2 linked regions of the Homo sapiens genome follow. The main gene of each other region encodes a partner of the protein of the gene in region 2 in a complex. Links are inferred from orthologs where the notes say so. Each region holds a gene or a part of one and is shown on either strand. Other genes may lie near its edges. The genes, in order: MAPK14 and TAB1.

The links.
Region 1: the proteins of TAB1 (region 2) and MAPK14 are in contact, whole or in part, in a crystal structure (PDB 4LOP), measured with the Mus musculus proteins. The link is inferred for Homo sapiens from one-to-one orthologs. Residues at the interface, in NP_079885.2 of Mus musculus: Val385, Tyr386, Pro387, Val388, Ser389, Val390, Pro391, Tyr392, Leu405, Ser406, Leu407, Val408, Met409, Pro410; in NP_036081.1 of Mus musculus: Gly110, Ala111, Asn115, Ile116, Cys119, Gln120, Lys121, Leu122, Thr123, Asp124, Asp125, His126, Phe129, Val158, Asn159, Glu160, Asp161, Cys162, Leu217, Thr218, Gly219, Arg220, Thr221, Leu222, Asn272, Val273, Phe274, Ile275, Gly276, Ala277.

Annotation. Positions count from the first base shown.
Region 1 is NC_000006.12:36,015,778-36,031,028, reverse strand, and holds the start of MAPK14 (mitogen-activated protein kinase 14), read right to left. Parts: upstream 3,222-15,251; 5' UTR 2,872-3,221; coding exon 2,756-2,871; coding exon of another isoform or gene 2,530-2,755; intron 2,216-2,529; exon of another isoform or gene 2,119-2,215; intron 1,942-2,118; exon of another isoform or gene 1,869-1,941; intron 1-1,868. Other genes in the region: SLC26A8 (testis anion transporter 1), read left to right, coding at 11,322-11,509. UniProt on the Homo sapiens protein: Serine/threonine kinase which acts as an essential component of the MAP kinase signal transduction pathway.
Region 2 is NC_000022.11:39,390,737-39,406,123, reverse strand, and holds the start of TAB1 (TGF-beta-activated kinase 1 and MAP3K7-binding protein 1), read right to left. Parts: upstream 6,345-15,387; 5' UTR 6,322-6,344; coding exon 6,289-6,321; intron 1-6,288. UniProt on the Homo sapiens protein: Key adapter protein that plays an essential role in JNK and NF-kappa-B activation and proinflammatory cytokines production in response to stimulation with TLRs and cytokines.

The sequences.
Region 1 (15,251 bases), on a different chromosome or scaffold from region 2:
AAAAGAAAAACTTCAAATAACTACGCTGAATCTCTGAATAAGATAACACTTAATTGTAAATCTAAATTCTGGTATTTTCATTCCAACATTAGTTATAATTTGTTTATTGTCAATTGTCATACAATTTCAGTTTCAGTTGTATTTTCTTTCACCAATATGCTGTAGGTTACATCTTAAATCCCTTTAGTAGAAAGACTACTAAACAAACAAGCAAATAAAAAAAACTGCCTCTCTGGAAAGACACAAGACACTTAACAGTGCCTGTCTTTGAGAGAGTAGAGTGGCTGGAGAACAAAAAGGAAAGGAGACTTTTCACTGAATATCTTTTTTTTTTTTTTTTTTGAGACGGCGTCTCGCACTTTCGCCCAGGCTGGAGTGCAGTGGAGCGATCTCAGCTCATTGCAACCTCCGCCTCCCGGGTTCAAATCATCCTCCTGCCTCAGCCTCCTGAGTAGCTGGGAGTACAGGCGCCCGCCACCACGGGCGGCTAATTTTTTGTATTTTTAGTAGAGACGGGGTTTCACCGTGTTAGCCAGGATGGTCTCGATCTCCTGACGCTGTGATCCACCCGCCTCGGCCTCCCAAAGTGCTGGGATTACAGGCGTGAGCCACTGCACCCGGCCCACTGAGTACCTTTGTAAAACTTTCAAATTTTATACAATGTCAATGTATTTTAAAAAATCTGTTCAATAAAATAAAAGTACTTTTAAGTGTCAGATACTGCTGGCTTCTATACCACAGAAAAGTATACCACTAAAGAACTGTGGAGTTAATTTTAATGGTACTTCACTGTAAATCTGAATCTCCTGTTCCAGTGCAGAGCTAGTCACCAATAGTAGCGAACCCTTGCAAGCAATTCAATTGGAGTTCACCCAAACCCTCTATAGTTGAGTTATTCTGCTGTATCACTCCATTAAAATTTAAATAGCATTGAAAACGAAAACGTGATACTACAGAAATGTATGTCAATTCAAGAATGAAAAAATGGAAGTATATTAATGAGCTATAAAATATTAAAAGAGCAATGATCCAAATACGTCTTTGAAAATTAGCAAATCAACTAGATATATATAATATGTATATACTGAATGTATATACCTATATAATATGTATATACTGAATGTATATACCTATATAATATGTATATACTGAATGTAAAATGCTGCAAACCAACTACACACACACACTCTCTGAATGTAAAATGCTGCAAATTCCTTTAAAATGTAAACTGCCATGCTGTAAAAATGGGAGAAAGATGTCAAGCACGGTGCTATCTGCAACATAACTTAAGCAACTTGAACTAGAAAATGCAATATGATCTGTTGCTGGACACAATTGCACAATCTCAATTACCCAGAAGATTCTACCAAACAGGAAATTCATGATGTGACTTTGGGAAACACAGAAATCATATTTAAAGATTAACACATCCAAAAGCCTGGAATTTGTTCCAAAACAAAAAAACGATTTTACAGGCCCGTTTTCAAATGACGCATACAATACGAATTACTAAAACACAGAAAAAGCTAACAGTTAAATCTGATACTTAGTTTAAGATCCGTAGCTTTCAAATTATAGAAAATCTAAAATACAGGGTATAAAACCTTGGAAGTTAAGAGAGCAGTTAGTGAAATATTTCAGGTCTGGAAATTATATGCTATCGACTTAATTTAAAACACACTCACGGTGTAAATTAAAGCTAAAAAGTATCTCTTCCCTTCCTTTTCTATGTGGTTCCATATCCTTACGAAAACCATCGTGTACCTCAGGCCATAAATGCAGATAACTAGATAACTCCCTGCAAGCTCTCTAAGGGACTTTTAAAACACAGTATTCGCAGGAATTATCTCAAAAAATATTTACAATACCTCCCAGCACTGTTAATAACTTTTTGATCTTGAGGGCGCCTTACAGATCTGAATCTTTCTTGCTCCAAATGAGAAAATTGTTTTGTCGAACAATACTTAAATGAGCAGTGGTATGTGACTAATCAGTGAGCCTGCCAGTTTCTCAAGCTGCAGTGTTCTTGCAGGCACTACCACCGCCGCCCCTCCACGGAAAGGAAATACGCTTTCAACCGAATCGGAAACACACCACTCAAGCTGGCACAGTGCTCACCGAGATAAAGTCGGTATTTTAAGCTCTATGGATCGCTGTTAATTCAAGTGCGAATTCAAAAAGAACGCTTTTCAAGATGGGATTTCGACAGAGTTTTGAAAAAAAAAAAAAAAAAAAAAGGCCCGGAGAGAGCTCCCTTCCTGGTCAGTTTTGTTCAGATGACCGCAGTCTTCGGGTTGGGCTGTGCCCTTCTGCTTCTCCCGGCAGTTCCCCGAGCTTGTCTGCTCAGAGGACCCAGGGTCCGGAGCCCCAGCGTGGGCGCATCACGGGAGAGGGTCCTTCTGCTCCAGGTAGGCAGGGAGACCCCCAAGGAAGCGGCCCTTCCCCCGGTGCCTGTTGCCGAGCAGCAACCCTCCGAGAGGGGAAGGCGCAGGGTGCTAGCCAGAACCGAGCTCCAGCACCACCACCTACCTCTCGCAGCGGACCTGAGTGCTGCACACGGTGGACCGCATACCTGCGTGAGTGCAGGGCGAGGGGTGCTGGAGGTGCAGAACGGGCAGAGCTCGAAGGGGCAGCAATGCCCTCCCCCGAGGAAAATTCCTGCCACTTGACGCAACGCTGAGCAGTGGAGCAGGCCTGGCCCTCGGGCGCGAGGGGCCACCCTGCCCACAGCGGCCCCAGGCCCAGCGACACTCACCACACAGAGCCATAGGCGCCAGAGCCCACTGGAGACAGGTTCTGGTAACGCTCGGGCACCTCCCAGATTGTCTTGTTCAGCTCCTGCCGGTAGAACGTGGGCCTCTCCTGAGACATTTTCCAGCGGCAGCCGCCGGGCAAGAAGGTGGCCCTGTGGGGCCCCCGCCTGCACCCGCACCCTCTCCCCGGCCCTTGCTGCCCGCCCAGCCGGGCGGGGACCTTGCGCTGGTCGCCCGCGCAGGTGCGGCTGCCGCGACCCCGCAGACTCCCGCGCGCGCGGCTGCTGTCAGCCGCAGCGGCTGGATGTGCCCCTGCGACTGGGGCAAGCCCCGCTAAGGGCAGGGACGCGCTCCGGCGCTCAAGACTGCGCCCGCCGCGATCTCCCTGCACCTTCGCCCCTACAAGGCCGACTCCGGGCTGCGTCGCAGTACTCCCGTTCCAGCTGCTGCGCCCGCTAAGGCTCCAGTGGTCGCGGTTCCAAGAGCCAGCAAACGGGAGCCTCCCGCAGTACTCTCGCGAGAACAGCTCCCGGGACTCTCCGAGAGCCGAGATTTTACCCAATATGGAACCTCTCCGCGGGCGGGGCTTCGTGAGAGAAGAGGATGGGAGGAGCAGTTCTCGCGAGAAGAGAACAATAACTGGAGACCAAAGGCAGAAACTCCCAGGGACTGTCTCCTTAAGGGCGCGAAGGCGGACCGGGGAAGGAAGAGAGAAGCTGGCAGCACACGCCTCGCGCGCCTCACCGTGGCCGGCGGGGCAAATACCTGGCTCTGTGGTGGAAAACGACACTGACAAATAGCGTGTCGGGGAAAGAGTCAAAAGATCTTTAACTGCGAGTAGTTACCAGCAGCAGAGCACCTGCTCACCTGAACCCCCAAATTCCAAAAAACACTTGCATAAAAAAGAGACAAGTGGCCGGGCGTGGTGGCTCACGCCTGTAATCCCAGCACTTTGGGAGGCCGAGGCGGGCGGATCACCTGAGGTCGGGAGTTCGAGACCAGCCTGACCAACATGGAGAAACCCCGTCTCTACTAAAAATGCAAAATTAACCGGGCGTAGTGGCGCGCACCTGGAGTCTTAGCTATTCGGGAGGCTGAGGCAGGAGAATCGCTTGAACCCGGGAGGCGGAGTTGCGGTGAGCCGAGATCGTGCCATTACACTCCAGCCTGGGCAACAAGAGCGAAACTCCGTCTCAAAAGAAAGAAAGAAAGAAAGAGACAGGTTCCGGCCAGAAGGCTGTTGCATTCCCATCTGCTCAAGGACATATGGGTTACTCTTTGAGATGCTGACGAAATATGTCCCAAAGGCAAATGTTAACCCTGCATCAAAGCTGAGGCTTTCCAGGGGCTGGGCTCAGTGGCTCACACCTGTTATCCCAGCACTTTGGGAGGCCGAGGCGGGTGGATCACGAGGTCAAGCGATAGAGACCATCCTGGCCAACATGGTGAAACCTCGTCTCTACTAAAAAAAATACAAAAATTAGCTGGGCGTGGTGGCACGACCCTGTAGTCCCAGCTTCTCGGGAGGCTGAGGCAGGAGAATTGCATGAATCCAGGAGGCGGAGGTTGCAGTGAGCTAAAATCGCGCCACTGCACTCCAGCCTGGCGTCAGAGGGAGACTCCGTCTCAAAAACAAAAACAAAAACAAAAACAAACCGAAGCTTTACATTAAAACTCTCCCAGTTAAACTTACATGCAGAAAAATCACCCTGGGAGTTTAAGATGCAAGTTCCCAGAACTCACAGGGAGTCTAATTGGGTAGGTCAGAGGAGGTCTTGATCAAGAGCATGCATTTTTATAATACATCTTAGGTGATTCTGATTCAGGAAAGTCTCTGATATCTCCCTTTGAGAAGCATTTAAAAAACCGTTACACTGAAGATTTGAAACTGACTCCTATCCTGAAGAGCCATCAGTGAAGAGGATTTTAAGCATTTAACTCAGGCCTCTTCGAGTAAGGAGAATAGGGCAGGAGTCTCATCGAATTTAGGCAAGTCAACTGACCTTTCCTGAACCTCAGTTCCAGCTTCTACGAGAGAATTCCTGCCCTGCATTCCCGACTAACAGAGTCATTTGTAAAAACCAAACAAGATAAATGTGAATGGGCAAGGCATTCTAACCCCATGCCTACATCCATTATCAACCTATGCCTATGCTAAAGCTTGTTACAATGAGCAGAAGAATCAGATCCTGTCTCATTCTCTTAGTTTCTTGTATTAGAAATAACTAGATCCAAGCCAGGACATTTCTCAACATTTCCCGTGATTATTCTATTTTGTGTCATACACACCTTGGAGGGCTCAGACTTTGCATATCTTGTCCCAACATCTAGCACAATGTCTAGAACATAAAACATGTGTCATAAATATTTGTTGAAAAAATTATGAACAGTGACCATGATTTCAAGTGGTACAGTATCCTCAGTCCTCTTCAAGGAAAGCAATATAAAACCAAAAAACAGATAGTCATGGGTGATTCATGGAAAGCTGTTTTGGATCCAATGTAGCTTAGGCTGGAATTCTCTTATCTACAAAAACATGTTGCTTGAGAATGTTCCAAACTAGGGAGGATAGGAAGCTTTCTAAGAAGTAATGGAGGGTGAAGGGGAAGTAAGAGCAAAAACATGATTGTGAAGACATGAGGGATGGGGTTGGGGGGATCAAGGGAATGAGGGAATGGTTACAAAGGGTGAGGAGGAAGCTTGGAAGTAGGAATCCTCAGAAATGCACATTTTTATCCTACAAATTGGGATGATGAGGTGAGGGTGAATGAAAGGGTAAAGATAAAGTAAGCAGTATATTCATACACTCATTCAACCAATGTGTATTAAATGCCTACTAGGTGTCAAACACTTGCAGTTTAAAAGTGATTAAAAACTACAGTTGCTGCCGGTGTGGAGCTTACAATCAATGGGAGGGCAATCATTCAACAAAAATTAATTGAATACTTCCTATGTCCACCACACTGCTGTAGGCACTGATAATAAAACAGTTAATGAAAGGGATAAAAGTCCTTGCCCTCATAGGGGTAAGATGATTTACAAAAAGGAATACATAAAGTGCATTATAAGGTAGACATTAACACAGTCATCAAACAAACAAGTGTAAAACTGTAACTGGGCCAAGCAGGAATACAAGGTGGAGTGAGAGACAGTGCTAGGGACAGGGATAGGGTGGGAGGAGGGTAAAGGGAGTGAGTGCAGATGGCATGTCTGCATCCAGAGCAGATCTGGGCAGGAGGGTGTCATTCAGTGGGGAGAGCCGGGTTTGTGGGGCAGACAGCCTATGGTTGGAGACCTGGGTGACCCTCCTAGCCTCCATTTCTTTTTACCTCTTCTGACCTGAGGAAGGCTTAAGTCTTCCGGAGACGTTAGTGAATTACCGTCTGTGCAGTACACATGTGACACATGTGCACTGCTGTATGTTCAGGACACGAGGCCTGGCACCAAATAGGCCCTCGATCAAGAATAGCAAAACCTCGGAGAGAGAAGGAGCCTTGGTATACAGGTTTACCAAATACCAAGGGGATCCCACGACTCAGGTATGAGGAGGGCGACCCAGGTACCACTTTCCTGGCTCCCTAGCCCAGCTGCTCATGCTCCTCTTCCTCGTCCCCTCCCCCACTCTCATCTCCTCAGCCCGCCCGGAACGCCCGCGGGCTAGGCCACAACGGCTCGGGAACCGCCGCCGGTATCCGCGTCCGCAGCGCCGCCAGCCAGGCGAGAGCCGTGTGGGATCCCAGCGCCCGCACTCCCGCCCCCGCCAAGGAGCCAGGTGAGCCGCTGCTGGGAGACGCCTGGGCGCCGGGGGCTGCAGGTCCCAGGGCGGGGGCTGCGTCCGTCACCGGCAGGTACCCAGGTATGCCGCAGAGCCAGGCACGCCGTGGGCACTCAGTCAGTATCTGTGGAATGAATGAATGATGGTCGTCCCTGGGAGCTTATCTCTGAGGTATTGTCTCTACTTTCAAAGGCCGTGTGGATGGCAATGACAAGAGACAACAGTGTGTGCGTTTTGCAAGCTGCATCCTTTCAAATTCTCCTGTCTATATTGTCAAAAGCCCCAGAACTGACGTGCTACCTGCACCCCACCGCCTACCCCATCCATTTCCTCCTGAGGCCTGACTGCCCGGCCGTTCCTCTTCCTTTCAGACCCCACTGCTTTTGTTAATTTTGTTCCCTGTGACTGAATCCCCACCCCCACCTCCTTGCCCCTTTCTTTTCATGTCAAATGCCGTTGATGTGTCAGGGGCCCCGTGAAGCCTTCTCCAGCACCCCCACCCCAATAATGAGCATCTCTCCAACACACCATGTTACTCTATCCACATTGCATGGAAGGTGGTTGTCCTATGTTTATGTGTCCAATGGTCATCCGCTTAAGGACTGTCATCTTACTAGTCATCCCTAGCCACTAGCCAGAGTGACTAAAGGATCTAAAGGCCAGGCTCTTTGCTTATACCTTTTCTGTATTCCCAATACATTCTCCATAAAAACCTAGGTAGTAACAGGTGTAGGGTTGTTTCTGATGGAATTACAAATGCTTATTTTGAAAATTCGGAAGTAAATTTTGCCTTTCCGTGATTATAGAAAACATAAGAAAGTTAACAATATCAGGGGGAAGATATTCCTGCAACTAAACTAGCTTTCAAGATTTCATATTATTTGGGTCAATAGCTAAAAAATTGGATTGTATTTAAACTTTTTATTCTTGACTTTTTTTTTTTTTTTTTTTTTTGAGACAGAGTCTTGCTCTGTCGCCCAGGCTGGAATGCAGTGGTTTGATCTCGGTTCACTGCAACCTCTGCCTCCTAGGTTCAAGCGATTCTCCTGCCTCACCCTCCTGAGTAGCCAGGACTACAGGCACGCCATCATGCTCGGCTAATTTTTGTATTTTTATTAGAGACGGGGTTTCACCATGTTGGCCAGGCTGGTCTTGAACTCCTGACCTCAGCTGATCCAACCGCCTTGGCCTTCCAAAGTGCTGGGATTACAGGCATGAGCCACTGAGCCATGTCTGGCCTATTCTTTACTTTTAAAGCACTCTGAACACAGATAATGTAAATAATTAGATAAATGGATGGATGGATGGATGGATGGATGGATGGATGGATGGATGGATAAGGGTACTATGGAGGGTGAAAGAGCTAGGCCAAAAGTGCTTGTATTTTAACAGGGCCCCCAAATTTAGCACTGAAAGGCTCATGAAAGATAATCCACTATATTTATAGTGGTAGTCATACTTTAATTTTTATCAGAATCACCTGGACAGCTTCTTTGCTTTTTTTCTACCTAGCAAGACCTACTGAATCAGAATCTCTGGGGGCCCAGCAGTCTGGACAGCTTCTTAAAACAGACTGATGGCCCCCAGAGTTTCTGATTCAGTAGGTCTTGCTAAGTGGGGCCTACTCAACAGTAGGAGTTTCTGGTCATTGCATCTTCTTGGGAAGTGTCCTGCTAGTACATGAAAATGAGCCACTAGGATTTCTATGAAATCAAGAAAGACATAATGGAGCTGGAGAAATTCCAAAGAAAATTACTTAAAAAAAATAATAAGGAAACCATGCGTTTACCCTTGCTGCTGTTAGCCAGACATTTGATGGAGTTCCTTAAAGACAACTTTCCACCTGCTCCTCCTAGCCATCCTCACTGTGGTCGTAGGAGTTTATGACTTGATAACATCTCCTAGACTAATATTAATGGTCTCCAATTGGCTGTTTTGCCTCAGTCTCTCCTATCTCCACTGTCCAACAACTTTTTGTGATGATGGAAATTTTTTATATCTGCATATCTGCACTGTCCAGTAAGGTAACCACTAGCCATATGTGGCTGTTGAGCACTTGAAATCTAGCTAGTATAATTGAGGATCTGAATTTTTTATTTTAAGTTTAAATAGCCACATGTAGCCAGTGGCTACCATACTGGACAACTCAGCTCTAGAACATAACACTGGCACATTTCATCTTCCCAAAATGCATCTCTGTGCGTATTACTACTTCTGCTGAAAGACTTTAAATAGGCCAGGCGCAGTGGCTCACGCCTGTAATCCCAGCAATTTGGGAGGCCGAGGCGGGAGGATCACCTGAGGTAGGGAATTCAAGACCAGCCTGGCCAACATGGCGAAACCCTGTCTCCACCAAAAATACAAAAATTAGCCAGATGTGGTGGCACATGCCTGTAATCCCAGCTACTCAGGAGGCAAGGCAGGAGAATCGCTTGAACCTGGGAGGTGGAGGTTGCAGTGAGCTAAGATCGCGCCACTGAACTCCAGCCTGGGTGACAGAGCTGTACTCCATCTCCAAAAAAATAAAAAATAGGCCGGGCGCGGTGGCTCACGCGTGTAATCCCAGCACTTTGGGAGGCCGAGGGAGGCAGATCACGAGGTCAGGAGATCAAGACCATCCTGGCTAACACCGTGAAACCCTGTGAGCTGAGATCACGCCACTGCACTCCAGCCTGGGCGACAGAGCGAGACTCTATATCAAAAAATAAAATAAAATAATATACATATATATTTATATGTATACGTAAACATATGTAAAGTAATTGACAACATTTAAAAGCCAGAAGATTCCACATAAAAATCTGGCATTATGGCTTCTCCTGGAAAAGATCAGATCTAAGCCATTCCGGGCCCCACATTGACCGATGGCAAAAATGGCTAGAGCTAAGCAGCTTCTGCTGCCTTTGCCAGCCCCACTGTTCCCACCACTCCTTGACGGTCATATTTTGCCTATTTTACACCAATCCTCCTTTAATGTCACTTTCAGAACAAAATGCTGGGTTCTAGACTCTCGATGTGACCCAGGATATCAGTTTTGTCATTAGCAGACTAATTAGGCTTGTTTAGGTTGCTGGGAACAAAGAGACTACTCATGGAAGTACATTGGACAATTATACGGGGAAAGTAAGGAAGATTGGGTCTGTATTCCTATGGGTGGGGAAAGAAAGGTGGGGGGGGATTCCTTACATTTCAATATACAGTTCTACCTTTTTTTCTTTTTGTAAGAGACATGAGGCACTAATTATCTTAAGTAATATATTGTAAAATACCTCTCCCATCCTCTTCTGTATTCCCCAGTCACCTCACTGGTTTAGAGAATTTGTGATCTTTAGTTCATGGTTGTTATACAGCATATTACTTCTACCCAATGCTTTGAGGGTAAAAATACAATATATAATTATGGCCCAATTACTTACATTTTCTAAAATCTTGGTTTTACACCTGTAAAATGAAAGAAATAGTAGTACTGGTATTGTTGTGGAAATTTAATGACATAACTCGTGAAGAAATCTAGTGCAATGCATGGCATAGGATAAATGCCCAATAAATGTTGGCAATGATGATGATGATGATTCTTCTGAAGGAAAACAAAGTTGCTGACACATTAAACTTATCTGCAGCATCACCCATCATCTATATAATTGTGTAATCTATATAATTTGAGGGTTTACCAATATATTTTATAGGTATGTGGTTTATACATATGCTTTTTTACATTTATGTGGAAGAATTTTAGAGTTTATGCTTTTTTTATTGTTCAAAAACATAGATTATTAAGACTGGTTATACTTTCTCCCAGAGATGGATCCCTATCCATCCTCATTTACTCTATCTTTTCAATCTTTTAAAAAAGCAGGATAATATAGATTTTTTTTTCTTTTAGAGACAGGGTCTCGCTCTGACACCCAGGCTGGAGTACAGTGGTGCGATCCCAGCTCACTGCAACCTCCACCTGCTGGGCTCAGGTGATCCTCCCACCTCAGCCTCCTGAGCAGCTAGGACTACATGCCATGCCATCATGCCCAGCTAATTTTGTTTCTATTTTTAGTAGAGACAGGGTTTCACCATGTTGCCTAGTCTAGTCTTGAACTTCTATAGCTTTTTCTGCTACACCATGAGGCCACTAACTGTATACTTGGCAGTCATTCAAGAAACACTTGTTAAGGGCCTGCTAAGTTGCTAAGTGAAAGCCATTCTTTTGGGTCCTGGGGCTGCAACTGTGAATAGTCACAGTCCTGCTTCCTGGTCTTACATTTTATGGGGGAAACAGACAATGGACAAACAGACAAATAATGAATCAGGTGCTGGCAAGTGCCGTGAAGAAAAGTAAAAGGTAAAGGGATAATGATGTCTGCTATTTTAGAGGAGTTACAAGACTTGTATTGAGCACTTAACCCTTCATCTGGACTTCTTCATATATGCTGGATAGTGAGCATTTTCAGTGAAAATTGTTGATTAATACTGTCCACCTCTTGATCATTTTCCTACAACATAACACAACTGAATATAAAGAAAACTAGGCCTCCCAGCAGGACACCTGGGTTCTAGTCCTGGCTCTAATAAGTATCAAACAGCAAAGACTGTTTAAACTTCTGGGTTTTGTTGTCTCCATTTGAAAAATGAAAAGAATACACATAAAATTATACAACTTTGAGAAAGAGTTTTTTACAACTGAAAGATGCTATGCAAGTGTAAAACATTATTATATAGGAATTTTATTTCCTTAAAAATATGCCGAGGATCTGGATTACTGAAAATGCTCTTTTATTTGCTCTCTTTCCACTCATCCAGGAATGGCACAACTAGAGAGGAGCGCCATCTCTGGCTTCAGCTCTAAGTCCAGGCGAAACTCATTCGCATATGATGTTAAGCGTGAAGTATACAATGAGGAGACCTTTCAACAGGAACACAAAAGGAAGGCCTCCTCTTCTGGGAACATGAACATCAACATCACCACCTTCAGACACCACGTCCAGTGCCGGTGCGTGTGTCCAATCTTTCACCTGCTGCCGAGCCGGGCAGGACTGAAACCTAACCTGACTCCTTTGGGGTCCGTTTCTCTTTCTTGTCTGAGTTCCTGTAATCAGAATCATGCAGTTTATTGTGCAATTTTTCTTCAGTCATTTTTGTGGTTTGTCTTGCAGTACCTTTTCGATTGTAAACTTCCTGGGCATAAAGATCTTGGATGTCCCTATGGTACCTAAGGAGGATATTTCATAATTCCATTGTTCAATCAACCATGACTACCAGACTCCCGACCAAAAATAAGATAGCCAGCAAGACGCAATGGCTCACGCCCGTAATCCCAGCACTTCAGGAGGCCAAGGCAGGCAGATCACTTGAGTCCAGGAATTTGAGACCAACCTGGGCAACATGGTGAAACCCCGTCTCTACTAAAAATACAAAAATTAGCTGGGCGTGGTGGCACGTGCTGTAATTCCAGCTGCTCAAGAGGCTGAGGCATGAGAATTGCTTGAACCTGGGAGGCGGAGGTTGTAGTGGGTCGAGATTGTGCCACTACACTCTAGCCTGGGCAACAGAGCAAGTCTCTGTCTCAAAAAAAATAAATAAATAAGATAGCCATGGTGGACTGATTAATGGTAGGGGAATGAGATTCTTCTAGTCTCATATCCAACAGTGCCCACATGGTGGTACTCATGGTCACTAAGGTAGAATCTACCACCACCACCTCTGATACCCGCTGTGACTAGCTAGGTCCTACAGTTCAGGGGCTCTTACCCTGTTTTTGTGCTTTGAACCTTCTAGCAGTCTGATAAAGTTAATCAACATCTTTCAGAATAATTTTTTAAATGTTTTTTATTGTGGTGAAATATGTATAACATAAAATTGGCTATTTTGACCATTTTTAAATATACAATTCAGTGGCATGATTGACATTCGCAATGTTGTGAAACCATCACCGCTATTTCCAAAACTTTTTCATCACCTCAAACAGAAATTCTGTTAAGCAATAATTCCCTATTTCCCCACCCCTCAGCCCAAGTAACCTCTCTTCTGCTTTCTGTCTCTATGAATTTGCCTATTCTAGCTATTTCACTTAAGTAGAATCATACAATATGTTTGTCTTTTTGTGTCTGACTTCTTTCACTTAGCATAATGTTTTCAAGATTCATCCATATTGTAGCATGTATTAGAACTTCATTTCATTTTATGGCTGAATAATATTCCATTGTATTTATATACCACATTTTTGTTTATCCATTCGTTAACAGACATTTGAGTTGTTTCTACCGCCATTAGGCTACTGTAAATAATGCTGCCATGAACATTGGCACAGGAGATCTGTTTGAAGTCCTATAACTAGGACTAGAATTGTTGAATCACATCATAAATCTGTGGTAAATTTAACTTTTTAAGGAACTGCCAAACTGTTTTCCACAGTAGCTGCACCACTTTACATTTTCACTGGCAATGTACAATTTTTCCATGTGCTCTCCAACATTTGTTATTTTCCATTTTTTTAAATTATAGCCAACCTATTAGGTATGAAATGATATCTCATCGTGGTTTTTTGTTTTTGCTTTTGTTCTGCATTTTCCTGATGACTAAAGGTGATGAGTATCTTTTGGTGTGTTTATTGGTTAATTGTATATCTTCTTTGGAGAAATGTCTATTCATTTCCTTTGTCCTTTGTAAAATTAGGTTGTTTGTCTTTTTGTTGTTGAGTTATAGGAGTTCTTCATGTATTCTGGATATTAAATTTCTATCAGATAGATGTTTGTAAATCTTATATAATTTTGTAAATATTTTCTCCCATTCTGCAGGTTGTCTTTTCACTCTGTTGATACAGTGTCCTTTGATGTAGAAAAGTTTTTTGGTGTTTTGTTTTGTTTTGTTTTGTTTTGTTGAGACGGAATTTCACTCTTGTTGCCCAGGCTGGAGTGCGATGGCATGATCTCTGCTCACTGCAGCCCCTGCCTCCCAGGTTCGAGCAATTCTCCTGCCTCAGCCTCCTGAGTAGTGGGGACTACAGGCAGGTGCCACCACGCCCAGCTAATTTTTGTATTTTTAATAGAGGTGGGGTTTCACCATGTTGGCCAGGCTGGTTTTGAACTCCTGACCTCAGGTGATCCACCTGCCTCGGCCTCCCAAAGTGCTGGGATTACAGACGTGAGCCACCGCACCTGATGTAGAAGAGTTTTTAATTTTGATGAAATCCAATTTATCTGTATTTTCTTTTGTTGCCTGGACTTTTGGTGCCATATTTAAGAAACTTGTCAAATTCAAGATCATACAAGATCATGCATCTTTTCTTTTCTTTTCTTTTCTCCTTCCTTCCTTCCATTCTTCTTTCCTTCTTTCTTTCTTTTTGAGGCAAAGTCTCACTGTCACCCAGGCTACCATGCAGTGGCACAATCTCCGCTCACTGCAACCTCCACCTCCCAAGTTCAAGCGATTCTCCTGCCTCATCTCCCGAGTATCTGGGATTACAGGTGTGCGCCACCACACCCAGCTAATTTTTGCATTTTTAGTAGAGACGGGGTTTCATCAAATTGGTCAGGCTGGTCTCAAATTCCTGACCTCAAGTGATCCGCTTGCTTTGGCCTCACAAAGTGCTGGGATTACAGGCATGAGCCACCGCTCTGGGCCAAGATCATGCATATTTTCATCTATGTTTCCTTCTATGAATTTTATAGTTTTAGCTTTTAAATTTAGGTCTTTGATCCTTTTTGAATTAATGTTTGTATATAGTGTAAGGTAAAGGTCCAGCTTTATTCTTTTACATGTAGATATTCTGTTTTCCCAGGACAATTAGTTGAAGAGATTGTCTTCACCTAGTAAACGGTCTTGGTTGAATAATTTTTTAATGCATAAAATAAGCAGGATTATAAGGAAAACCAGTTACATTGAAATACAGTTATCTAAATATCAAAAATACCAAAATTGTGTTATTTAATAACATGGGTCTAATAACTACCATAATTTCAAAGTAGTGATGAATGTAACTAATATTTCAAGATCTCTTTAGCAATTGTAATGTAATATAGAAATGTTTGTCATTTCTACTGGTGACAAAGTCAAGTTCTGCTGATACTACTGTGTTTTGTTGCCAACATTCATAATTGAAGGAAATGCTAAAGAGGTTAGTGAAATAAAGATATAAGTTCACCTATATAATTTCACATATGTCCCCAAATACTATCTACAGACTCCTTGGGGGTCCACAAACCTCAGGTTAAGAACCCTGGCCGGGTGCAGTGGCTCACACCTGTAATCCCAGCACTTTGGGAGGCTGAGGTGGGCGGATCACTGAGGTCAGGAGTTTGAGACCATCCTGGCCAACGTGGTGAAACCCCTTCTCCACTAAAAATACAAAAATTAGCTGGGCTTGGTGGCGCACAGCTGTAGTCCCAGCTACCCGAGAGGCTGAGGCAGGAGAATCGCTTGAATCCGGGAGGCAGAGGTTGCAGTGAGCCGAGATCACGCCACTGCACTCCAGCCTGGTGACAGAATGAGACTCTGTCTCAAAAAGAAAAAAAAAAAACAAAGAATCCTTTGTGACCTACATCATTATAGTAATCTTAATTACTCAAGTTGTCCTCAGTCACACTCTGAATTTATTAGTCCTTCTTGTCCCCTGGTTTATCACCCACAATTGGCACATGTTGGTATGTTGGCATGTTGGTGACAAGTGTGGAAAGTCCTACACAGCCCTGCTCCAGACTGTCCTCTCCTTGAGACATTCTCCTTTGTCCGCATTC
Region 2 (15,387 bases):
TGGTATTGTTAATTAGATTACCTTATTTCACTGATTTGAAGACCTACATTTTCCACATGTTAACGTCTCTGGAGTTGGTATGTTACAAGTTAATTAGCTGTGAGTTCTCTTTCTGAGCAATAGACAAAACACTGACGTGTCCTTAAAACATTGGTGTCTTAGATCCAATGACACATGGGCAGTTTCTCACGTAATTCGGGCGCTCGCCAGACACTGGTTCACTACAGTGGCCGGAGAACCTCAGGAGGTTCTACCAAGTGGGAGTGAGAGTATCTGGTCTTCTCCGTGTTCCCCAGCGGACTCACGCTGCTGCAGCTGAGTAGGCTTGGATCGTGTTCTCCCGTCCCTTTCCATCTCCATCGAGGATTAGCCATACCGAGCGTCCATTGCTGATTCCATTAAAGCCTACAGGACTGCCAAGTCTCTCGCTTCCTTCCTCCACATTTCTGAACAATTTTCAGAAAGGTCATGTACTTTCTATTCACACAAACCACCCACCCCTCCACCCCTGCACACACTGATGCATACTTTCTCCCACGCCCCCAAATGCCAGGCCTGCCAGCACCAGCCGTGAGCGGCGCTGGAGCGCAGGGAGCAAGAGTCTGCGAGAAGCTGAGAAGGGGGCGTCTCTCACTCAGCACAGCCTCATCGCGGAGCCACTGCAACACACACAACAGCGAACGCAGGACTTAACTCTTCCATGTCTGAGAAATGAACTGCTCATGAGAAATTTCACAAGAATACGTTAAGAAGCCTGTTTCAAAAGACCTAATTTTGATTTGATTTTGTGAAGGAGTTTCCAAAATTAATGTTTCGGTATGAAAAGCTTCTACAGTGATCCAACAGTATTTAACCCAACAAGGCCTTTACAAACACCCTGTGCATGATGTAAGCATTCACTCCTCATGTATATATGTGTCCATGTCACATAATAGTTCACAAAGTACCCACACAGACTCATCTCAAAGTCCTGGGCAGCAGAAATGGACAAAGAATGGTTCCAAGCTCAGGCCACAGCTTGAATACCAAATTATGCTATGAAAAGGCCAAGTGTTTTTGTGGTAAAAGCACCCACATTCCTTAGAAGCAAAAAGGAAGCTCAGAAAGGGAGACTCACAACCCCAGGAAGAGGGCTCGGAGCAGGGGAGCAGCAGACCTTTCTCTCCAAAAAGCTTCCAAGGCCCCAATGCCCCCACCACCTCCAACCTTCCGGATGACCCACTTCTCTGAGACCAGCTCCACTCCTGGCCCCCACTTCTCCCACCGGAGTTTTCATTGAAGGTTCTCCATGTCGTCATCCTAAAGAGCTCCTCATTCATTCTTAAAGGGGCTAATAATCATTGTTGGCACTTCCAATGTGCTAGGGCAGCAGCTGGGTGTATGCAATGGGTATAGGTGGTACCCCCATGGACCTTTTTATTTTAGTGGCTATGTATTTATTTTAACATCCTTTAGATAAATTACACAGATAGCAGCACCTATGATCTCAGATATAATTGCTCAGGACATGTCGAAGTTTAAAAAATTGATTTTAAGCTTACTTTCTTTTTTTTTTTTTAAACAGGTCTTGCTGTGTCACCCAGCCTGGAGTGCAGTGAGGGGATCATAGCCTCACTACAACCTCAAACTTCTGGGCTCAGGCAATCACCCCATTAAGTCTCCTAAGTACTACAGGCACATACCACCATGCCTCACTAATTTTTTTAAAGACTGAATCTCACTATGTTGCCCGAGCTGATCTGGAACTCCTGGCCTCAAGTGATCCTCCTGCCTCAGCCTCCCAAAGGGCTGGGATTCCAGGCATGAGCCACCATGCCTAGCCTGATTTTCTTTTTTATAATTAAGTAACAGTACAGGCAAAATCAAACTCTTGATTCCCCCTGCCCCAGGGTGCCCCTCTTCCAGGGCTCCCTCACCCCGTAAATGGCACCACTGTTGTTTAAACCAAAACCTTAAGAGTCCTTTTTGACTCTTCTTCCTCTGTCACACACCTCACATTCAATCCATCAGCAAATCACATGAGCTCTTCCTCCAAAACACAACTGGAATCTGATACTTCCCACCATTCTTCTGCCATCCCCATGGCCAAGACACCTTCTCGCACCTGGATGACTCTAGGAGTCTCTTAGGAGGTCCCAGGCTTCCACTCTCACCACTCAAACTCAAAAGAGGGATTTTTCGGCCGGGCACGGTGGCTCACGCCTGTAATCCCAGCACTTTGGGAGGCCGAGGCTGGCAGATCACGAGGTCAGGAGATCGAGACCATCCTGGCTAACACGGTGAAACCCCGTCTCTACTAAAAAAAAAAATACAAAAAGTTAGCTGGGTGTGGTGGTGGGTGCCTGTAGTCCCAGCTACTTGGGAGGCTGAGGCAGGAGAATGGCGTGAACCTGGGAGGCGGAGCTTGCAGTGAGCTGAGATTGCGCCACTGCACTCCAGCCTGGGCAACAGAGCGAGACTCCGTCTCAAAAAAAAAAAAAAAAGAGGGATTTTTCTCCAATCAAAAGTCACATCACATCAGGTCCCTACTCAATCTGCTCCCCATGAAAGCTTCACATCACATGAAGAATGGAATCCAGAGGCCACATCAGGACCTGTGAAGCCCAGCATGGCCCCCGGCTCCCTCAGACCTCAGCTACTCCCAAGCTCCCCCAAGGCACTCCACCCAGCTGCACCAGCACCCCTGAGGCTCCTGAAACAGCAGCCTTTGCATCTCCTGCTCCCTTGGGCAGGAATGCTGCCCCCATTTCCCCGTTTTCATCTCATCAAATGTGGAGAAGTCTTCCCTTACCACCCTGTCCAAAATGGCACCCCCAACATTCTGTGTGTGAATCTAGACTGTTCCTCATAGCACCACCTGATGCTGTAGTTTGGATATTACAAAATCACAGATGATCTGTATCTGTTCGGTGCTCACTGTCTGTCCCCTTTACTAGACCATCAGCTCCACAAAGGCGGTGTCTCCTGCACCTGCAGGGTGCCTAGCACATAGTGAGTGCTCAGGGACATTTAAGGGAATGAACAGCATTCACTCACGGCAGCACTGAAGGTAGAAGTTTCTGGTTAGCGGGCAACCAAGCCAGGCTAGTAGTGGAATGTGTCAGTTCCTTTAACACCAACAATACTCCCCAGAGTCCTCTTGGTTTGGAGAAACTAAGGCTCAGGGACATAAAGTGATTTGCCCAAAGCCAGTATGAGACTAACACTGTTTTATCCGGCTGAAAGGTCTGGGTCCTTTTGAACACATCAAGCTCTCCTTAGAACCTCTTTGTGGCCGGGCACAGTGGCTCACACCTGTAATCCTAGCACTTTGGGAGGCCCAGGCAGGCGGATTGCTTGAGGCCAGGAGTTCATGACCAGCCTAGGCAACGTGGTGAAACCCTGTCTCTACTAAAAATATGAAAGTTAGCTGGTGTGGTGGTGCACACCTGTAATCCCAGCTACTTGGGAGGCTGAGGCACAAGAATCACTTGAACCCACGAAGCAGAGGTTGCAGTGAGCCGAGATCACACCGCTTCACTCCAGTCTGGGTGACAGTGAGATCCTGTCTTCCCCATACACCCACAAAAAAGCTTTTTGCTTCAAAAGACCTTTCAAGGTACCACAGTGCCTGCAATGATGCTCCCACCAAGTGATCTACCAAGTGGCCCCAGCATACCCTTGCAAATGCCATTCCTGCAAACCTCCACTGACCCAGACCAATCAGGCCACTCTGCAGCCCCTCAACACATAGACTTGTAGTACTAATTGTACTTAACTTGTGAAAAGCTTAACAAACACATGCACACATATTTAAACACCTGTCCTTAGCCAGATGCGGTGGCTCATGCCTGTAATCCCAGCACTTTGGGAGGCGAAGGCAGGAGGATTGCTTGAACCCAGGATTCTAGACCAGCCTGGGCAACATGGCGAAACCCCATCTCTAGGAAGAAAAATGAAAACAAAAACACACGTGTCAAGAAAACACACATACACATCCTCCTGGAATGGCCCTCCTCTCCTCTGCTTGGCAAACTCCTCTCATCCTTTAAAGCCTCTAAAATTCTCTGCTGTCTGCCCAGGGCTCTTGACACAGGTCTACAATAACAAGACAGTGCCCCAGGTATTGTATCAGTGGCATATGCTCCTCCCAAGCTGATCTACAAACGCAGTGAGGGTGGGCACCACGCCTCATTCATATTTGCCCAGTAGCCACAGACCAGCAGCCCTCACAGCCATCTCTGAATGCAGGTGTCTGAGCTGAGTTGTTCTCCCCAGACTTGAGACAGTGGATGTGACATCAGCAAGCCCTACACACCACCTGGACATCCATACAACCTGTGAGAGGGATGTCCTGATCATCATGAGGGCGGAGGGGCCTTCTGATGACATCCCTGCCATCCCTTTGCCACGCACCAAGATGCAATGTGTTTAAAGCTAACTATTCTTGCTTTAAAAAAGGCCACCACCACCTGGAGAAACACATTCTGGGGCTAGTAGAGCTGGCCTTCTGCCTAACACAATTCCCTTTGGTTCCATCACATCTAGGAAGGGGAGAAGCTGGCAGCCACCTACTCTACATGACCCAGGTGGCTGCTCTCTTCTCAGCAAGCCAACTCAGCCTGCACCATTTACAATTTTCCCTCCCAATGTCACAATCCAACCAGCGTTTCCCAAATGCTAACTAGAGTGGGGACAGTTATACAGGGACCTTGCCCTCTGGGAACTTACAAAGCAGAGGGCCAGCCGTCTAAAATCAATGCCAACTCGGTAACAAGACAGACGTGCCCAGCAGTAATAAAATAAAGGAGTAGTAAAGGTGTGGAGGGGAAGACAGCAATCCCCACTGGGGAGGCCTGGGAACTGTGCTCCTGGGAGAATAATTTCAAGGCTCTGGTTCCAGGTTATCCCTGAGCCAATGTCTACTCACCTCTGTGACGCCAAGGGCGAGCACTGGACCTGGCTACAAACCTTTACTCATCCTTTCACAAATGTATTTATTGAGTGCCCAGCACATGGTGATAGATAATAGAGACACAGCGGTAAACAAGAGATCACAGGTCCCTGTCCTCAAGGAGTTTACTTTCGTTTTTTTTTTTTTTTTTTTTTTGAGACACAGTCTCGCTCTGTCGCTCCAGGCTGGAGTGCAGTGGCCCGATCTTGGCTCGCTGCAAGCTCCGCCTCCTGTGTTCAAGCTAATTCTCCTGCCTCAGCCTCCCGAATAGTTGGGACTACAGGCGCCCCCACCACGCTCGGCTAATTTTTGTATTTTTAGTAAAGACGGGGTTTCACCATGTTGGCCAGGATGGTCTTGATCTCCTGACCTCGTGATCCACCCGCCTCAGCCTCCCATAGTTCTGGGATTACAGGCATGAGCCACCGCGCCCGGCGGAGTTTACTTTCTAGTACAGGAGGCAGACAAGTCCATAGACAATTCTAACAGTGCCATGCATAGGAAGGACCCAGGAGGCCAGCACCCTACCCTGGTAGGTCAGAGTAGTCCATGGTGCCAACATGTGTGTGCATCTATGTGCACATACGCGTCAGAGGACGCAGGGCCTGGAAGACAGCGCCAAACCCATGAGGGTCCAGACCGGGGGTAGGGATGAGTCTGAAGACAATTCTTCCACTCAGCGCTCTCGCCTTAGGAGAAGGAAACTGAGGCTGAGGGAGACACAGTCAGAGCCAGGACCAGAACCCAGTGACAGCTACCACTGGTCATTCCTTTAGTACAGCCCAGGGGTTAAGGGGGTTTCTGGAATCACACTGCCTGATTTTAATCCTGCCTCAATACGTACCATTTGTGTGGCCTTAGGCAAACGACCACCTCAGTGTCTCAGTCTGTCAAATAGGAATAACAGTAGCACCTATCTCAGGGGGCTGCTACGAAAATGAAACTGACAAATGTAAAGCAATTAACACAACGCCGGGGATGCAGTAAGCGGTACACTGTGGATGCTGCTGTTATTATCATTGCACGTCTGCTCGGTGTCGCAGTGGGCTCGAGACTCGGATAGCTCTGCTGCCGCCCGCCGTGTTCCCTTCTGGCTCCAGGACGCTCCCGCCCTCGACGCCCGGCAGCAGCAGCCCACAGCCCCGGCGCCCTTGACCCGGGGGCCGGGCCCGCCGCGCACACACGCCCTGGCCTCGGGAACGAGGGGGCCAGCCCGAGGAGAGGAGAAGGTGGCTGACACACCCCACCACGGAGAGGGTGGCTGTCCAAACTCGGAGAAGGAGCCGTTCCTGCACCCGACAGCACCCCCGCCCAGGCTCCCAACCCCAAGCCCAGAGAGCGGGCCTGTTCCTCACACTCTGCAGCAAGCTCCTCCTCTGCGCCGCCATCTTGGAGGAACCCCTGCGGGAGCGCCCGCCTCCCCGCAGAGCAGCGAGTGGGGCGGCTAGAGCGGCCCGAAGGAGGCGAGGATGACCGCGCTGCCGGGGAGCATGCGCCCAGCGCCACCCCACGCCCGAAGAGGGATGGGGGTCGTAGCGGACCGTGTGCGCAGGCGCGCTCTTGCACGTTTTGTTGTTGTTGTTGTTGTTGTTGTTTTGTTTTGTCTTTTCCTCGGGGCCGATTGCTCCTCGCCCATCTTTATTATTTTTTGAGATAGGGTCTCACTCTGTCACCCAGGCTGGAGTGCAGTGGCGCGATCACAGCTCCCTGCAACCTCTGCCTTCCGGCCTCAAGCGATTCTCCTTCCTCAGCTTCCCGAGTAGCTGGGATTACAGGTGCCCGCCTCTCCTGCCCCAGCCTCCGGAGTAGCCGGGACTACAGGCATGAGCCACCACGCCCGGCTAATTTTTGTATTTTTAGTAGAAACGGGGTTTCGCCATGTTGGCCAGGCTGGTCTTGAACTCCTGAGGGTTCTTTGTGAACACAGTTGGTAAGGGGAGGACAATTCATTCACTCAGCAAATGCTACCTAGGTGACCCTGCTTGGCTCTATAGTGGGTTCTGCAGCGAGCAGGACAGGCCTTCAAAAAGCTAACATTTTATTTTATTTTATTTCATTTCATTTTATTATTATTTTATGTTATGTTATGTTATGTTATTTTTGAGACGGAGGCTTGCTCTGTCGCCCAGGCTGGAATGCAGTGGCGTGATCTGGACTCACTGCAACCTCTGCCTCCCGGGTTGAAGCGATTCTCCTGCCTCAGCCTCCCGAGTAGCTGGGGTTACAGGCGCCCGCCACCACGCCCAGCTAATCTTTTACATTTTTTGTAGAGACGGAGTACCGCTATGTTGGCCAGGCTGGTCTCAAACTCCTGGCCTAAAACGATTCTTCTGCCTGGGCCTCCCAAAGTGCTGGGATTACAAGTGTGAGCCACCCCGCCCAACCTAAAATGTTAACATTTTAATTGGAGAGGACAACATTTATGTATATAAGACATTCTGCCGGGGGCAGGCGCGGTGGCTCATGCCTGTAATCCCAGCACTTTGGGAGGCCGAGGCCGGTGGATCACCTGAGGTCAGGAGTTCGAGATCAGTCCAGCCAACATGGTGAAACCCCATCTCTACTAAAACTACAAAAAATTAGCCAGGCATGGTGGTGCACGCCTGTAATCCCAGCTACTTGGGAGGCTGAAGCAGGAGAATCACGAACCTGGGAGGTGGAGGTTGCAGTGAGTGAGCTGAGATCACTCCACTGCACTCCAACCTGGGCAACAGAGTGAGACTCTGTCTTAAAAAAAAAAAAAAAAAAAGCACACTTGTCACGGGAGCCCACTGTGGCTTGCACAGAGTTGGAGGAGAGAGATGAAGGGGTTGTAGGGACAGGCTCTGACCAAGTGGGCCCCAGGCAGGAGTTTATTCATCTGGAGGACAGAGGGAAGTTGTTGCCTTCTAAGCAAGCCATTGACAGGGTCCCATTGGTAGAGAGATGTTTGACTCCCAGGTTCAAGCGATTCTCCTGCCTCAACCTCCCAAGTAGCTGGGATTACAGGCATGCGCCACCACGTCTGGCTAATTTTGTATTTTTAGTAGCGATGGGGTTTCTCCATGTTGGTCAGGCTGGTCTTGAACTCCCGACCTCAGGTGATCCACCTGCCTTCGCCTCCCAAAGTGCCGAGATTACAGGCGTGAGCCATTGCACCTGGCACCTGCCTGCTTTTTATAAAATTAAACAAACATTCATTTGCAAGCCATCTCTCCCTGACCCCCACCATTTAAAAAAAAAAAAAAAACAGGTTCTCACTGTGTTGTCCAGGCTGGAGTGCGGTGGCACAATCATGGCTCATTGCAGCCTCAAGCTTCTGGGCTCAAGTGATTCTCCCACCTCAGTCTCCCGGGTAGCTGGGACTACAGCATGTGCCACTGCGCCCGGCTAATTTTTGTATTCTTGTAGAGACAGGCTATCACCATGTTGCCCAGGCTGGTGTCAAACGCCTGAGCTCAAAAGATCCTCCCGAGCTGGGCGCGGTGGCTCATGCCTGTAATCCCAGCACTTTGGGAGGCCGAGGTGGGTGGATCACGAGGTCAGGAGATCAAGACCATCTTGGCCAACATGGTGAAACCTCGTCTCTACTAAAAATACAAAAAATTAGCCGGGTGTGGTGGCATGTGCCTATAGTCTCAGCTACTTGGGAGGCTGAGGCAGGAGAATCGCTTGAACCCGGGAGGCGGAGGTTGCAGTGAGCCAAGATCGCGCCACCGTACTCCAGCCTGGGCGACAGAGTGAGACTCTGTCTCAAAAAAAAAAAAAATTAGATGGACATGGCAGTGTGTGGCTATAATCACAGCTACTCGGGAGGCCGAGGCAGGAGAATTGCTTGAACCTAGGAGGCGGAGGTTGCAGTGAGCCGAGATCACGCCAGTGCACTCCAGCCTAGCAACAGAGTTAGACTCTGTCTCAAAAAAAAAAAAAAAAAAAAAAAAAGATTCTCCCTGCTTGGCCTCCCAAAGTGCTGGGATTACAGGCATGAGCCACCGCGCCCGGCCACCACTGTCTTTGTTTTTAAAACCCCTGCCTCCCAGGGATGTTACAAGGATTCAATAAAGTAACATCTTCCAAGCCTTTAGAACAGGAACAGAATCTGCTCCAAATATGTGGCTTCTCTTCCCTTCCCCAGACCCATTTCCCCATGATCATGCCATATGCTTCTACCATTTCACCTTGGGATGCTGCCAACAGTTCCAAAAACACAGAAGGTGCTTCTGAAGGCTGCGCCATTGGGCGCCCCAACTGCTTTTCGGCCAGTTATCACCTTTATCAAGATATCCTTGCTCATCAGGCCTGTGACAAACTGAGTGGAGCCAGAAGCCCAAGAGAGGGGGCAGTTAATTCTGCTGGGGGAGTCAGGGAAGACTTCACAGGGGAGGTGACCTTCCAGCTGGGTCTGGGAGGGCAGAGGGATTGAGCAGAGAAGATAGAAAGCGCATCTCAGGCCAAGGGATCGCATGGTCAAAGTGAGGGGGGAACTGGCAAAGGCAGAAATTGACTGTGGCCGAGCTGAGGAGAACAAATCAGGGAGGGATATGGGTGCAACAGAAGCAATTGGCTTTATCTTGTAAGGGTAGGGACTCATTTAAGTGGGAGAGTCACATGATCATATTTGTGTTTCAGAGGGATCCCACTGAGTCAGACAGGAAGCAGGGAGACCAGTATTAGGAGCCTGCTGGGATAACCCAGATAAGAGAAGGAAGGAGGTGGCCGGGACCAGGATGGTGGCCATGAGGATAAAAGAAATGGACAGTTTTCAAAAATATCCAAATAGGTCAAGTAGAAAGACTCTGGCAGTTGATTGGAAGCGGAAGAAAGGGGAGTGGAAGATGACTCCCAGGTTCCTGGCCCAGGCCGTCGGCCCAGTGGTGGAGGATCTGCCGAGACAGGGCCACTAGAGGAGGGCCAGGTCTGGGCCTGGCAGGTAGACAGAGAGCGCAGGGGGCAGAGAGGATGCTGAAACATTCACAGTGTGCAAAGCAGCATGTTACTCTATGCATTTGAGGCATCTGCTATGGAAGAGGAGAACCAAGGCAGTGACAGAAGGGATGGTTTGAGAAATATTTAGGATGTTAAGTCAACAAGATCTGGCGTATGCTTGGGTTTTTGAAAAGAGGGACAAATCTGGGATAATACCCAGGGGGATGACTGGTAGATGATGGTGCCTTTTACTTAGATGATGAGCACAGAGAAAGGAGGAGATTTGGTGGGAAGATTCATGCGTTAATTCAACAATCCTCAATAGAGCACTTAGTACATGCCAGGTAAGCAGGGACAAGAACACTGCCCTTATGAGACTTCCACATTCGGTGAGGAGAGATAGGTAATAAATAAACTAGTAAGTATGTCAGGTGGTGACAAGTGCTATGGAGGAAAACAAAGTGGAGGTGGGCTGCCTTTTTTTTTTTTTTTTTGAGATGGAGTTTTGCTCTTGTCGTCCAGGCTGGAGTGCAATGGCATGATCTCGGCTCACCGCAACCTCCACCTCCTGGGTTCAAGTGAGTCTCCTGCCTCAGCCTCCCGAGTAGCTGGGATTACATGCACACAACACCACACCCGGCTACTTTATTTATTTATTTTTTTTTGAGACAGGGTCTCACTCTGTCACCCAGGCTGGAGTGCAGTGACGCAACCACAGCTCACTGAAGCCTCGACCTCCCAGGCTCAGGTGATTTTCCTGCTTCAGTCTCCCGAGTAGCTGGGACTACAGGTGTGCCACAACACCTGGCTAATTTTCCATTTTGTTTTTTGTAGAGACAGGGTTTTGCGATGTTGCCCGGGCGGGTCTCAAACTCCCGGGCTCAACTGATCTGACTGCCTCGGCCTCCCAAAGTGCTAGGATTACAAATATGAGCCACTTGGCTGGGCGTGGTGGCTCACGCCTGTAATCCCAGCACTTTGGGAGGCCGAGGTGGGTGGATCACGAGGTCGGGAGATTGAGACCATCCTGTCTAACACAGCGAAACCCCGTCTCTACTAAAAAATACAAAAAATTAGCCGGGCATGGTGGCGGGCGCCTGTAGTCCCAGCTACTCGGGAGGCTGAGGCAGGAGAATGGCGTGAACCTGGGAGGTGGAGCTTGCAGTGAGCCGAGATCCTGCCACTGCGCTCCAGCCTGGGCGACAGAGCAAGACTCCGTCTCAAAACAAAAACAAAAACAAATATAAGCCACTGTGCCTGGTCGGGGGTGCCTTTTTAAAAGGCATGACCAGGGATGAACCCACTGCAAAGGTTTCAGGTCTCCTCCAGAGATCTGGGGTGGAGCAGGGAGAGCATTTCAGGCAAAGGCAACAGCAAGTGCAAAGGCCCTGAGGCAGGAATGTGCTAGGTATGTTCTAGGAACAGCAAGGAGGCCAGCGTGGCTGAAGCACGGGGGAGGGTGGCAAGCTATGGGATGAGAGAAGTAGCAAGGCAGATCCCTGGGGTCTTCATGGGAGATGTCAACCAGATATGTCGGAGTAAAGGCAGTTGGATATACGAGTAGCTGACCTGGGGGGGTGGGTGTACACACTTGAGAATGGTCAGAATACAGCGGATATTTAAAGCTGTGAGACCAGATGAGCCACCAATGAAGCAAGTGTGGACGGAGGATGAACCTGGGAGTCCTCCACATTGACACTGAGGGCACAATCCCTGCTACTGTTCAATTGATGTAACTTTTTTTTTTTTTTTTTTTTTTTTTTGAGACAGGGTCTCACTCTGTCACCCAGGCTGGAGTGCAGTGCTGTGATGTTGGCTTCCTGCAAGCTCTACCTCCCGAGTTCAAGCGATCTGCCCATCTCGGCCTCCCAAAGTGCTAGGATTACAGAAGTAAGTCATCCCGTCCAGCAATGTAACTTTTGAAAAACCTTGAGGAAAAGCACATTCAATTTTGTATGAGATCTCTCAAACATTTGAAGTCGCATTTCTAGGTCACATAATTGGGACAGGGTTTGGGAAGACCCCAGCGCTGGATAAGCACAGAGAACAGATGGGTAACCAAAGCCGAAGCCTTTGCTGATCCAGAAGCATGCACAGCTCGGGGAACTTTCACATCAAAAACAGCTTTAAGGATTATGTGAGTGACCGCAAATGTATAAAAATAGTTTAACAAAAGGCAGCAAAGAGGCTAAGACCATGGGTTTTAAAGCTGGACTCACTACTGGTCAAGTCAGGCCCTGCACCGGTATAACTGTGCTGGGCCACTTCTCCTCCCTGGCCCAGCTCCTCATCTGTAAAATGGGAGCATCTTAGTGCCCCTATCACAGGTGTTGAAAGAAGTGAACAAGGCCGGGCGCGGTGGCTCACGCCTGTCATCCCAGCACTTTGGGAGGCCGAGGGGGGCGGATCACCTGAGGTCAGGAGTTCGAAACCAGCCTGGCCAACATGGCAAAACCCTGTCTCTACTAAAAATACAAAAATTAGCTGGGCGTGGTGGCGCATGCCTGTAATCCCAGCTACTTGGGAGGCTGAGGCAGGAGAATCGTTTGAACCTGGGAGGCGGAGGTTGCAGTGAGCTGAGACTGTGCCACTGCACTCCAGCCTGGATTGCGCCATTGTACTCCAGCCTGGGTGACAGAGCGAGACTCTGTCTCAAAACAACAACAACAACAACGACCAAAAAAAAAAAAAAAAGAAAAGTAAAGAAAAGAAAAGGAGGCTGGGAGCAGTAGCTCACGCCTGTCATCCCAGCACTTTGGGAGGCCGAGGTGGGCGGATCACAAGGTCAGGAGATCGAGACCATCCTGGCTAACACGGTGAAACCCCGTCTCTACTAAAAATACAAAAACTAAATTAGCCGGGTGTGGTGGAGGGCGCCTGTAGTCCCAGCTACTTGGGAGGCTGAGGCAGGAGAATGGCGTGAACTGGGAGGCGGAGCTTGCAGTGAGCCAAGATTGCGCCACTGCACTCCAGCCTGGGTGACAGAGCAAGACTCCATTTCAAAAAAAAAAAAAAAAAAAGGAAAGAAAAAAGAAAAGAAGTGAACTAGACAATGCTTTACAAAGTACGCAGCATAGCTCAGGCCCATAGTCAAGTGTAGCTATCTAATTGACAAGGAGACTAAAAGGAGAAGAAAAAAGATTCAGAATAAAATAAAGGGGAGATGGAGAGGGGCCAGAATCAGTGTGCTGAGCAGGACTGCACTCATGGGCATGGGACCCGTACAGTCGCACATTGCCCTGCTCTCAGAATAGACCTAGCATTTGGTTGAATGCTCTGCATTGATTTCTGTTTGAATTTCGCCATCTTGAAATTCTTCATCATTTTATATTTGAACTTGTGTTTTATAAAGGAAGTCCAGTGGGACAAAGAAGCATATGCACCAGCAGGCTCAGACCAGCAAGGATGACAGGCGGTGGGCAGCAGAGCTGCCTAGCAATTGGCCTGGCCACCCTGTGTGCACCCACATGGCTGGACAGTTTGCGACACTGTGGGGCTGTGTGGGGACAGTGGGGGCCAGGATCTGTGCCCAGATTGGTGGCAGCAGCAGAAGAAACTGGTGGGGGTGTCACGGCTCCATGCCATCACGGGCTCCATGGTGGGAGAAGAGACTCCACATGGAACAGCCCGTGCCTGTAACATCTGCACAAATATAGCTCACAGCCTAAATGCTGGGACAGGTACTGCCAGCAGTCAGGCAGTAAACCTTGTCAGTAAGTTATTACAACATGGAAACATACACATGGATGTCGCAATAAAGCACGCTAGGGAGCTGTTAGGATTCTTCAAAGAGTTTTAGAATTTTCGGTTTTCGCCCTGGCATCCATGGGGATGCTAGGAAAAGAAAAAGAATCTCTGGTTTTGAAAATTGCTGCAGGCCAGGCACAGTGGCTCATGCCTGTAATCCCAGTACATGGGAGGCTGAGGCATGAGAATTGCTTAAACCTGGGAGGTGGAGGTTGCAGGGAGGCGACATCATGTCATTTCACTCTAGCCTGGACAACAGAGCAAGATTCAGTCTCAACAAACAAACAAACAAAAACAAACAAACAAAAAAGCCTGCTGCAATATTGCAAATATCCACAGTCTTAGAAATAAAAATTAAATGTATAGATCATCATATTCTACAGAAAATAATTCTATTTTATGTGAAGCTTACTCTGAAGGCAGTTTTAAAGCTAAGTTTTCCTTGTTATTGAAGACCCAGCAATCAAATGCATAAACAGATCATTAAAATTATATAGAAATCATGAAGTAACTTTCAGTTTCTTGTACAACCTTCACAAGTTATAGAAAATGTCAAAGAAAACATTAAAACATCGTTGTATAAGTTTACATTTAAAATTAAATCAGACACATATGAAACTGATTTATATGAATAGTTAAATTTTTTTTCTTGAAACGGAGTCTCACTCTGTCGCCCAGGCTGGAGTGCAGTGGCGCAATCTTGGCTCACTGCAACCTCTGCCTCCTGGGTTCAAGAGATTCTCCTGCCTCAGTCTCCTGAGTAGCTGGGATTACAGGTGCGCACCACCAGGCCTGGGTAATTTTTGTATTTTTAATAGAGACAGAGTTTCACCATGTTGGCCAGGCTGGTCTGGAACTCCTGGCCTCAGGTGATCCACATGCCCCGGTTTCCCAAAGTGCTGGGATTACAGGTGTGAGCCACCGCGCCTGGCCAATATGAAGAGCTAAATATTTTTTTAAAAATTCTTTAAAATCATGAATTTCTCCTACTGTGACAGCATATAAAATACTCTCAGCAGCTACAGCAACAATTGCCTTGGCAGAAGGAGCCTTCTCAAAATAAAAAGTATAAGAAATTATTTGTAATCTTGCCTTTGCCAAAAGTGGCTGTTGTAGCTTTCAATGGAAAATGAAGTTGTCATAAGTATAAATTTCAATAACATAATAAATGAACTTGCAAAAAGAATGAGCCAAAAAATCATATGACCAATCAAGAAATCATATTAGTAAGGCATTATTTTTGTATTATATAAAATGACACCAAAATATTATTATTACTATTTTATTTTTTATTTTTTGAGAGGGAGTCTCATCCTGTCACCCAGGCTGGAGTGCAGTGGCGCGATCTCGGCTCACTGCAACCCCCACCTCCCTGGTTCAAGCAGTTCCCCTGCCTCAGCCTCCCGAGTAGCTGGGATTACAGGCACACACCACCAAGCTCAGTTAATTTTTTTTTTTTTTTGTATTTTTAGTAGAGAGGAGGTTTCACCACGTTGGTCAGGCTGGTCTCGAACTCCTGACCTCAGGCAATCCGCCCACCTTGGCCTCCCAAAGTGCTGAGATTACAGGCGTGAGCCACCACGCCTGGCCTATTATTATTATTATTATTATTATTATTATTATTATTTGAGTGGGAATCTCGCTTTTGTCGCCCAAGCTGGAGTGCAACGGCATGATCTCGGTTCACTGCGACCTCTGCCTCCCAGGTTCAAGCGATTCTCCTGCCTCACCCTCTCCAGTAGCTGGGATTACAGGTGCCCGCCACCACCCAGCTAATTTTTGTATTTTTAGTAGAGATGGGG